Linked DNA regions of Homo sapiens: region 2 is linked to region 1. A link means that fine-mapping ties the variant in region 1 to the expression of a gene that starts in the linked region. Tissue or cell type: whole blood. Region 1 holds a variant in brackets; the other region holds the start of a gene. All regions are shown on one strand. Distances are from middle to middle.

Region 1 (5,154 bases):
CTCTCTCTCTCTCTGTCTCTCCCTACCTGTCAACAGAGAGAACTCTCTCCTTCCCCCATCCCTCTCTTTCACACACACCACATAGACACACAGAGGTGTGTGTTTCCTGTAATTGCAGGTAAAGTTTGCAGTGTGAAGGACTCCTGTGAATATCTCTTTTGACAGACCCCACATTAGCATTTTTGTTTCTACTTGACTGTATTGTTGGAGGAGCTGAAGAGAAGATGTAGAAACATAATTATCTCCAGCCACATCTTTGAGGTGTCTAGAGACAGAGAGAAGTCTCACTTGGATCATCTAAATTCATACTTTTAAGATCTAAAGAAGTTCTTAGGCTACTTCTGTCCTTTCTTCCCATTTCTTGAAAAGTTTCAGTGATCTAGATCAAATTCTCCATCAAAATAGCATCGACGATACTGCATTTCATCTTAGAATAAGTGTGAAATAATCCCTGGCTTATCTAAATGGTGTCCTTTGACTATTCTACACAAAATATAACAGGACATTTAGCAAAGACTGCAAATTCAACATTCTTACCTGGCTCCAGTGTAGAATATTTTGCACAGATGTTCCAGCAAGAGTGTGGGCAGCATATACACTTGCTCGGCTCTGTAACAAACCATGAGTATTCTGGGGGACATAGAAAAACTCACAAGATGTATACCCTGTCAAGACCAAATCTCCAGGGTGTCAGACTAAGAAATGGTAACATTATTAAGTTATCAGCAATTATCTATGAAACAAAAATATGTACATGCACGTAAATAAAATGTCATTAAATGTATTGCCAGACACCGGTATTTTTCATCTGAGAATAGGTTCTCATCAGAGATCTGGCCCCTAATTAAAAAAAATTTTACTAGTGATATTTAGGATGAGGGCTCTAGCATTGGGCCTGTATTCAAATCCTAGTTCTGCAGTTTAATTTTTAGGTGAATTTGAGTGAGTCACTTAATCTACTAAATCTTAGTATACTAATCTGCAAAGTGGGGATATTAATAACACTCATAGGCTTGGTATAGGTAATAAATTAGCCTGATACATAATATATACTTTTCATATCCTTACTATAAATCAAATTATTAATCTTAAAGAAGAAGAAAAAATATTCAGAATTAAGGAAATGTTGCCCCAGCTGCTGGGAGTGCTGCTGGCAAACAGCCCTCCACTCTCAGTCTGCTTTGAGGATTGCACCAATTGTAGGCAGATACATTGCCCAGTGCTACCCTGTTACTGGTATGGCTACATTAAATGACTGACTGATATGGTGTATAAAGACCCAACCCTCTCTTCCTAACTTGAGACGGTTCTGAAGGGTCATCCTATCTTCAAAAATCCCTGCAGGATCAACTAAGTCTCCTATTGAGACTGCATCACTACTTGACTTTTTCACCTACCTAGTCCTGTTTCTTTTCCTTCTCTAGGTATTATCCCTAGAGCAGGACCCAAATCATTGTTCACATTAACCTCCATCTCAGAGTATGCTTCCTAGGGAACCCACCCAGTGATACCAACTGGTAGCCTAAGCCAAAATGAAGGTCCCTGATGTTCCATCAAAGAACTTAAACTACAAACCTACAGGACCCCAGTGCAGGGTAGAGGTGGATGATGCATGACAGTTGTCTCTGTTGTCTAACATGTGCTAATTGCTCTTTTTAATTTAATTCACTGTAGTAAAGCTGCTTTCAGACCTCTTCCATCTATAATCTGTGATTTAATATCAGCAATGCCCTTATGTTAACCTTGTTTCAGTCCATACTGAAGCATTTCCCTTATTTCCTTACAGTTTGCAGAGAACTGAGTTACTGAGAATATATCATTACTCTGAGTCTTCACTGGCATTAGCTCTCCCTCCAGGGGTGAGCCATATGACTCCCAGCTTTATGCTGGGATGCTGGGAATTTACTAGGCTCCCACTTACCATGTTCATATTGTTGGTGTTGAATCCACCCAGAAGTAACATGATATTACTACAAATCTGATCAAGAATCACCTGGCCACAAAGGTAAATAACAAGTTGTCTGAGAAATCTGGTCTGATACAGAAATTCTTTTTTGCCAAACAATCCCTGTGAAAATATGAAGTGACATAGACATGACAGACAGAAAAGATGTGACTGTAATTTAAAAGTTTATGTTTTAGGAAATTGGGCTGGAAGATTTTTCTACGTACACAGGAAGTTTTCTGAGGAGTCTCATACCTTGATCATCATATCTGGCAGCAACAAAAATTTGGTCCCGGGGCTTTTTGCATGCTTAACAGTGGCTATGGGTGCTAAAGCAAAATACATTTTGATTTTCTGAGCCAGCTCTGGCATGGTGGAAAATGCAATAAAGCCTGCAAAAGAAGAAATATGTCAACATGAATACGAAATATTTTTAGAACTCATAAAATGTATATTTTGCTTTTAAATACATATTTCAATAAGTATATATGTGACTGCATCTTACCTCTCCTATAAAATTATAAGGTCCTTATGACACCAGCATATTTGCTTTCAAGTAGTAGGTGCTCAATGAGTTAAATAAATAATTGAATAACACGATGTTGGCTTTGAGAAAATATTTATATTGAGAGATATGCTATATCTAGACACATATAGCACAGAGATATGCTATATCTAGCACATATGTCTATATGCTAGACACATTGCTGGGGACTACATGATTCTGAAGATGAAAAGAGCAGGTCTGAAGGAAGCACAAGGTGACAGATTTCAGGGATAGCTAGTGTCGTATGCTCACATTTCTTCCGAGTATACAAACCTGCTTTTCTTTGAACCTACCCATGGTGGTGCCCTGTGAATAGCCGACATAATAGATCTTTTCCTGGCCCGTTTTCTGCAAAATAAAGTTTATCACTGCAGGAAGGTCAAACCTAGCCATCTCATCATAACTACAAGGGGAAAAGACAAAGTTATATGAAAAATTATAATCAGAAACAAACAAAAGCTCCCCCC[G/C]ACACCAGGTTTACAAACAAGCCCTTGAGTTGTCAACTCTGACAGCTTGTTACCGTGTCCCTCACAACACTCAGAATGGATTTCTTTCAAACCTATGAAGCATGGGTGCCTCTGGAGTCACAGGCTGTCAGCAAACTGCTGTTTTCTCTAGATGTTATCACGTAGCAATAACTATCTTCAGTGAATATTTACTGAGCACATAACGCAACTGCTAGTGGAAGTGTCCTGTTCTACTGTTAAGCAGAACCGCACAGGGCTCTGCAGATTCATTTACAGGAATAGTTGTAAAGATGCTGAAGTGGTCCGTCTCTGATAGCCATAAAAAGTGAGTTGAACATCAATAGGTAATTTAAATAAAAGAGTTAAAAATCTTTTGTAAGAACATGAGAGGTAAGTCAAATCGATGGTCCCTAGGTGATATGGTTAGGCCTTGTGTTCCCACTCAAATCTCATCTTGAATTGTAATCCCCATAATCCCTGTAATCCCCATGTGTCAAGGGAGAGACCAGGTGGAGGTAGTTGAATCATGGGAGTGGTTTCCCCTGTGCTGTTCTCGTGATAGTGAGTTCTCATAAGATCTGATTGTTTTATAAAGGGCTCTTCCCCCTTTTGCTCAGCACTTCTTGCTGCAGCCTTGTGAAAAGGGTGCCTTGCTTCCCCTTCACCTTCTGCCATGATTGTAAGTTTCCTGAGGCCTCCCCAGCCCCGCTGAACTGTGAGTAAATTAAAACCCTTTACTTTATAAATTACTTAGTCTCGGGCAGTTCTTTACAGCAGTGTGAAAACGGACTAACACACTAGGCTTAATAGTTTCCTTTCTTTTTTTTTAATGCTGCCTGGTCTCTTTTCCTTCTGGAGTACTATTATACTATTACCCGCCCCTCCCCATGAGGAAATTGATCTACACTTCTCTCATTCCAATCTTAGTCACCTGACACCAACCACCATTCTCACCCTATTAGCTAGACCCACCTTCTACATGGGGAACTCAGCATTCCTCACTACTTCAACCAAGGAATCACTAGTTAATTAAGAAAACTGGGGGATATCATGTTAAGATAATGATGACTCAACCAAAATAAATCAACCAAATACTAGAAGCCGTAATTTTTTACCCATTTTTTTTGAAAGACAGACATGTCTACCTCTGTTCTCGAGATTATCATATACCTGAAAGCCCAGAACTCATCTTGGTCTATGGAGAGTGTCTTGTGTTTTCGAGACCAGGCGTTTCCCCTGCTGTTCCCCATCCACACGTCAAAACCAGCATCTGCCAGAATGAAGCCCAGGCTATTGTTGGGCAGGTTGGAAATCCAGTTGCTAGCACCTCCAACTAGGCCATGCTGCAGTAACACCACAGGCCTGGAACCTGCAAAAAGAGAAAATTTCAACTGTATGAAATGTTCTCTCCCTTTCTTGTTGTCCAGTAATGAATAAGAGCTTTCAAATCAAACAAACCTGTGTTCAGATCTTGATTCAGCTGCTTGCTAGCTTAGTTATCTTGGCCAATTACTTGACCTTTGGTGTGTGCCTTGATTTCCTCATCAGTAAAATAAGATTTTTGTTATGCTTTAATAAAATAGAGCACAAGAAATGGATGGCATGTTGCCCGGCAGAAAAAGAATCTATAAAGTTTAACTTCTGTTCTTTGTTTTGTGTAATTATTATCAGACTTGTCTGGGCTCTTCAGAAATATTGAAAGTGCCCCAGTAGATGGTATAGTATGATTATTAAGGTATATGTATACCACATATATATAATGGTTTAGTGATTAAGAGACCTTCATGTCAAAAGGACCCACAAGCCAGCTTGAAGGAGCTCCCACTGTTCAAATACAGAAATATTGAGCATCAAAATAATTATAGTAAATAATTATATCCCATTGAATAAATTAAGAATGTTCAAGTCCATATAGAGACCAATAAATAAATGAACAAATAAATAATTGGAAGGAAAAGCTCTTATTTACAGAATGCCAATTAGTAAATACAAAACATTGATTTACAGTACAATACCCACTAACAAATTCAGAAAGATTGAAATTATCAGTGAATGTTAAAATTAGTGAGTAAAATTTAAAGACAGAATACTACATATCCTGAAATTATCTTCCCATAACTTATTTGTTAATTACAAAAGGAAAAATACTAACTTTAGAAAAACCTGGCAGATACCACCTTAATGAAGTCATTAAA
Region 2 (5,154 bases), 37 kb before region 1:
TGAATTCTTTCTTCTGAGAAGGCAAGAATTGAGTTTGCTGCAAACCCACACAGATTCACTGCTGGCTGGTGACATATTTTGGTGCCGTGTGACTCAGATAACTTCCACTGCTAATGTCAATGTTGGACAATGTTAGATAATGTTGAAGGATTAAGATATCAGCGTAAAACTGAGTTTCTGTGGACTATACTTCTTTGTTATGCTCTACTGAACCCCTCTTGGGGGGAAGTCTTTGGGATACACCTTACAAGAGACTCATCTCTCACAGACAGTTGGCTGCTGGTCAGTGGAGGTTGGCTGCATTTACAGCCAGGATCAAAGGATGCCACTAATTTTAAGTCCCTAGTGTTTAATTCAGATTAAACACTAGGTTTATTTCTTGACAGAAGACATTTGTCTTCTTGACAGTGTTATTTCTTGACAGAAGACATTTACCTGTGAAAGCTGTTTTCTGGAACTTCTTTTCTTTACCTGTCTTTGTAATTATAGGCTCAAAATTGCCAGAGGAAGAACCCTAAACACTTAAAAATATATCTGTTTATCCAACTTCATTCTGACAATATGCCTCCGTATTCCAATTTGACACTATAGTTTACGAAGTCCTCTTCCTTCACCTTTAATTCTCCTTTTGGCTTAGACTAGAGTTTCTCTACATTAGCACTCTTCTGAGCTGGGTAATTCTTTGCTCTGAGAGGCTGTCCTGTGCACTGTAGGATGATTAGCAGCTTCCCTGGCCTCTGCTCCCCACATTAGAGTACCATGCTCCCACTCCTAGTTGTGACCACCAAAAATGTCTCCAGACATTGCCAAATGTCTTTAGTTTCCAATAAAACGACGTTCTCCATTAAGCAACATAATTTTTTAGTGTATGTATGTCCCATATGACATTTCAGAAATTTATCTGAAATTCAAATTTAACTGAACATCTTATCTTTTTCGTTGCTAAATCTGCAGTCTATCTGGGGGCGAGATAACCCCTGGTTGAGACCCAATGGCCTAGAGTTAAATCCAAGTGTTTTACAAATAACAATGAGTCAACTGCTTTTTTCATTGGTTTGTTTTTTGAGCTAACCCTACATCATTTGCAATTATAATGAGTACTGTTCCTTTAGAACCAGATGTTGTCAAGAGATGCAGAATCTAATAAAATGAGTTTTGATCCTGATTGAAAGTTAAAGAAACATTTAGAGCTCAGTCAGGGAGGAAAGAGCTTGAAGAAGAAAGCTAGCAGCAACCTTAGGAGAGAAGCAATGACAGTGAAGAGTTCTGTCCACACAAATTAGTTGAAAGAGGTTACAAAAGAGGCTACCAGAGGTTACAAAATATTGCATAACAGAGTGAAGTACCCAATGGATATACCATTAATGTTTTTCTAAGTCAATGGGAAGACACTTAAATGTCTTAAGAGTCTACAGAAATACAAAATCAAACCAAGCCAAAGAGGAAGTCAGCTGCAATTTTAGTGGGTATTGCAGACTTCCCTCTCCTCCAACGGAAGAATTAGCTAATTCTTAAACTCCAGAGAGGCTGGCCTCGATGTCAACTGCATAGTGAAACATAAAATCTTTGAAATAATTATAAAAATAGCTCAGTATATCCACCAGTGGAGTAAGAAGAATTTCCCTGAATATTTATAAGCACAGGCCTAGTATCCTGGTCACTAGTTTCTGGCCACTAAGGAGCCTCAACTGATTGGGAAAATCACATCAATTGGTTTGAGATGGTTGAACTATTTCTTCCATGATATTATTGAGCAAATAGGCTTGCTGCCCCCTGCTCACAGAAGCCAATATCTGGACACTGGGTTTTGAGGAAAGAAAAACTTTATTGCAAGACAGGTCAGCAAGGAGACAGGAGGTGGGCTCAAATCTGCCTCCCCAGTTTGGAATCTGAGAAAATGTATGGCTTAGAGGGTGAGGGAAAGGATTTAGGAATGTTGGTTTGGCAGGGACTGATTGAAGGGCTTCAAATTTGACCACTAAAGGTAAGGTATGTTGAGGCAGATTTCAGCCCTGGATCTTTTGGGCCAATGAGCCCCTAGCTTCTGAAAGAGGTCCTGCATTTAGGTTCCCGTCATGTCCTTGTCTTCTTGGTTCCCAGGGGAGGGATCATTTGTTCTAGGTTCTGTTAGAGGCAAAAACATTTTTATTGTGCATGCCTGGGCTAAATGACTTACAGTTTTTGGCTCTGTTATATCTACAGAGTAAATTGACATTTGTTATCAACAAAGTACGGCCCATTTGGGCTGGTCCCATGGTTATAATGGGTGTGTGGACGGTCGAGTGTTTCAATTCTGGGAAAGTTTGATGTGATTGTATTCAGTTCAAGGAAAATGTGTGAATGATATCATATATAGCATATAAAATGTTTACAATATTTAAGAGATTGGGCATACTAGCATGTTTGATAAATAAATTGATGATGCAATTTAAAATGCATAACAGAGTATTTGATTTTAGACTTATGATTTTTAAATTGAATATTATAAAGTAATTTGGCTAAATGTGTGAATAGTATTGGAATATTTAAAACAACTTAAGATTTATTATGTTAGTAAATTTATTAGTTTACAAAACTGCATAAATAGCTGGAAAAGCGTTACTTGTTAGGCTGAGAATTTTGAAGATTATTTTTCAAGTTCTTTGCCAGACACGTGTGGCTCTCACAAGTAAGTTTGTTGGTCTCTAGCCTTTCTCAATGGCCACTGAAAACCAGATTTTGATTACGAAATGTCTGAAATACAGTATCTTGGTTTGAACCGTGAGTCCTTCCTGCCAATGTAAGAACTTTTCTTCCTCCCTTAACTTTGCTTCCTTCTTTCCTGCATGTTACCACTGGCAGAGCAAATATGACTCAGAAACCGGCTCCTCAGGGTTGTAACATTAGATGATACAGGCTTGGGTCGTTACACATGACACCAGTGCCTTTGTTTCATTGGGCTGGGCTCTCTGGAAGGTGTGCTGCTGCCTGAGCTGCTGGAAAAGCACTGACAGGTGTTTGCTAGAAAAGCACTCCTGGAGCTTGCCACCAGCTTGGACTTCTAGGGACTTTCCTCTCAGCCAGGAAGGATTTTGATATTCATCAGAAATACCTCCAGAAGATTCAAGGAGCTGTAGAGGTGAAGTAAGCCTGTGAAGGACCAGCATGGGAATCCTATACTCTGAGGTACATCACCTTTCTGAAAGCAGAGTTCCAAAGATGTTAAAAGTTACTCATGCTTTTCAGATGCAATTTTCTATCCCTGTTAATATATTTCTGTTTTGTCTGTTCAACTCCCTGGGGGAGCATTAAGTCAGAAAAAATAAAGTCCTATGTGTTATTCTTGTTGATATTCTTAATAGTTTAAGACAAAGTATTTTGTAATTCTAAAATATTAGCTAGATCTAAGTTGAGATGAATATAATACACATTTCATAGTATCTGGATGTTTGCAAGGATAATTTGGACAAAATCGAGTTTGAGTTGTGCTTTTCTCATGACAAACACTCAGAGAAAAAGAGAAAATTGTACTCAATTGGATTTTCTAAATATCCAAAAGATTGACTGCCTCTTTTATGGAACCACATGACCAGAGTAATGCCTTTCAGCTTGGTATTTGAAGGGAGATTCACCTTTAGTAAATATTAGTAAAGACTATCACTATGAAGAAGAGGAATAATAACATATTTTGATGATTTGATTATTTTCTTTTCACATCTGATAAATACTGAGGTACTTTTACTTGTATTGGAAGTAACTTATTAGAATCAAATGGATTTTTAATGATGTTTCAAGAAAGTACAAGCAAGGAATGTTTAGACAAGAGTACAAGAGGTGTAATGATGTCATTATACATAATTTACTCTCTCTCTCCTCTGACACAATTAACTGGTTAATCTGCATTTCATTGCAGATGCTCAGGGGAACCTTCTTGGATAGTTTTGATCTAGTATTAAAGACAGTTTATTTGCAGTTATTTCTAATGCCATGTGTGTATATATCTCTCCGTGTGTGCAAATGCAGTGTTTGATTGGTTTATAACTCTAGGTATGTCTTGCTCAGTGATTTTAGCCTCATGAAGGGATCATATACATGAAAATGACAAAACATATAGTGCTTTTAAATGCTACTCTGGTAACTCTCAAACTTTAGACTGCCCAAGTGTCAGGGAGAGAAGTTTGTTTGAAATGCAGTTTCAAGGGACTCCAACCCAGAGAGTCTGTTTCACTCAGTCTATGGTAGGATACAAAAGTATACTTTTTAAAAGGAGCATCCCAGGTGGTTCTGACATAGGGGTGATCTGTTTACCACCATCCTGAGAAAGAAAGACTGCCACAGGCCAGTGCTTTCCCGTTTTTAATGTCTATACAGATCTTCTGAAGGTCTTGTTTAAATGCAGATTCTTAGTTTGTAGACCTGGGTGGGACCTAAGATTCTGCATTTTGGTTGCTTTTTCAGATTGCATGTGGGAATTATATGTGATTTGGAAAAAGGAAAAAAAAAAGCCTAGTCTCATCCTCAGGTATTCTGATGTAGAAAGTTGGAAGTAGGACCTTTCATCTATAGTTTTAAAGAGTTTGAGACTCTTTAAAATTAAATAGTAATCTCTTAAATATTTAAACATAGCCTACTCATTTGTAATATATCATTTGCTCTGTGTTTCCTAAGGATAAAGATTGTGAGCTACTCATTAAGGACAAGAAAAAAGCCTGCTGGATCCCTGGTCCTATGTTGCCTGGAAGAATCTATTCAAAAAAAAAAAAAAAACTTCCCCCAATTTGAGTGCGGGAAGCTCCTCTAGATTGGGGACATAGGGTTATCATTTTTCCTTAGAGCTTTGCAGTGCTAATAGTTATGCAATATATATTTTTAAGAAAGAAGGAGAGAATGAGGGAGGATCCCAGAGAGCTGGTCCTGAAATCTGCACTAGAGGATAAGCTTAGAGCTCAGTGAGAGGCCCTAATTTTGAATAAGTAACTCCAACTGCGTAAGATGGACTTTTAAACAAGGCTGATTCATTTAAACCCTTATCAAAGGTATTTGTTCATAATATTTACAATAGCAACAAACATGTATTTAGGGCTTCTTATAGATTAGGCCCTATTTTAAGCACTTTATATATGTATTAACTCATTTAATACAGCAATCTTGTAAGAGTCACTTTTAGTATCCTTA

What was found. PIP is the estimated chance that this variant, and not a neighbour inherited with it, causes the effect.
Region 2: ANKRD22 starts here. The variant in region 1 is fine-mapped to the expression of ANKRD22 in whole blood (INTERVAL, PIP above 0.99). The same link has a PIP of 0.9 or more in unexposed skin.

The regions. Positions count from the first base shown.
Region 1 is chr10:88,812,271-88,817,424 of GRCh38, reverse strand. It overlaps LIPM (lipase family member M), which reads right to left. Exons shown (of 9, transcript NM_001128215.1): 3 at 4,130-4,328; 4 at 2,786-2,895; 5 at 2,201-2,337; 6 at 1,922-2,068; 7 at 538-609. Among named protein-coding and RNA genes, the nearest start is that of LIPM, 12 kb to the right of the region's middle. The variant G/C (reference allele first, on the strand shown) is at 2,960.
Region 2 is chr10:88,849,598-88,854,751 of GRCh38, reverse strand. It overlaps ANKRD22 (ankyrin repeat domain 22), which reads left to right and starts at 2,908. Exons shown (of 6, transcript NM_144590.3): 1 at 2,908-3,165. The coding sequence starts at 3,145.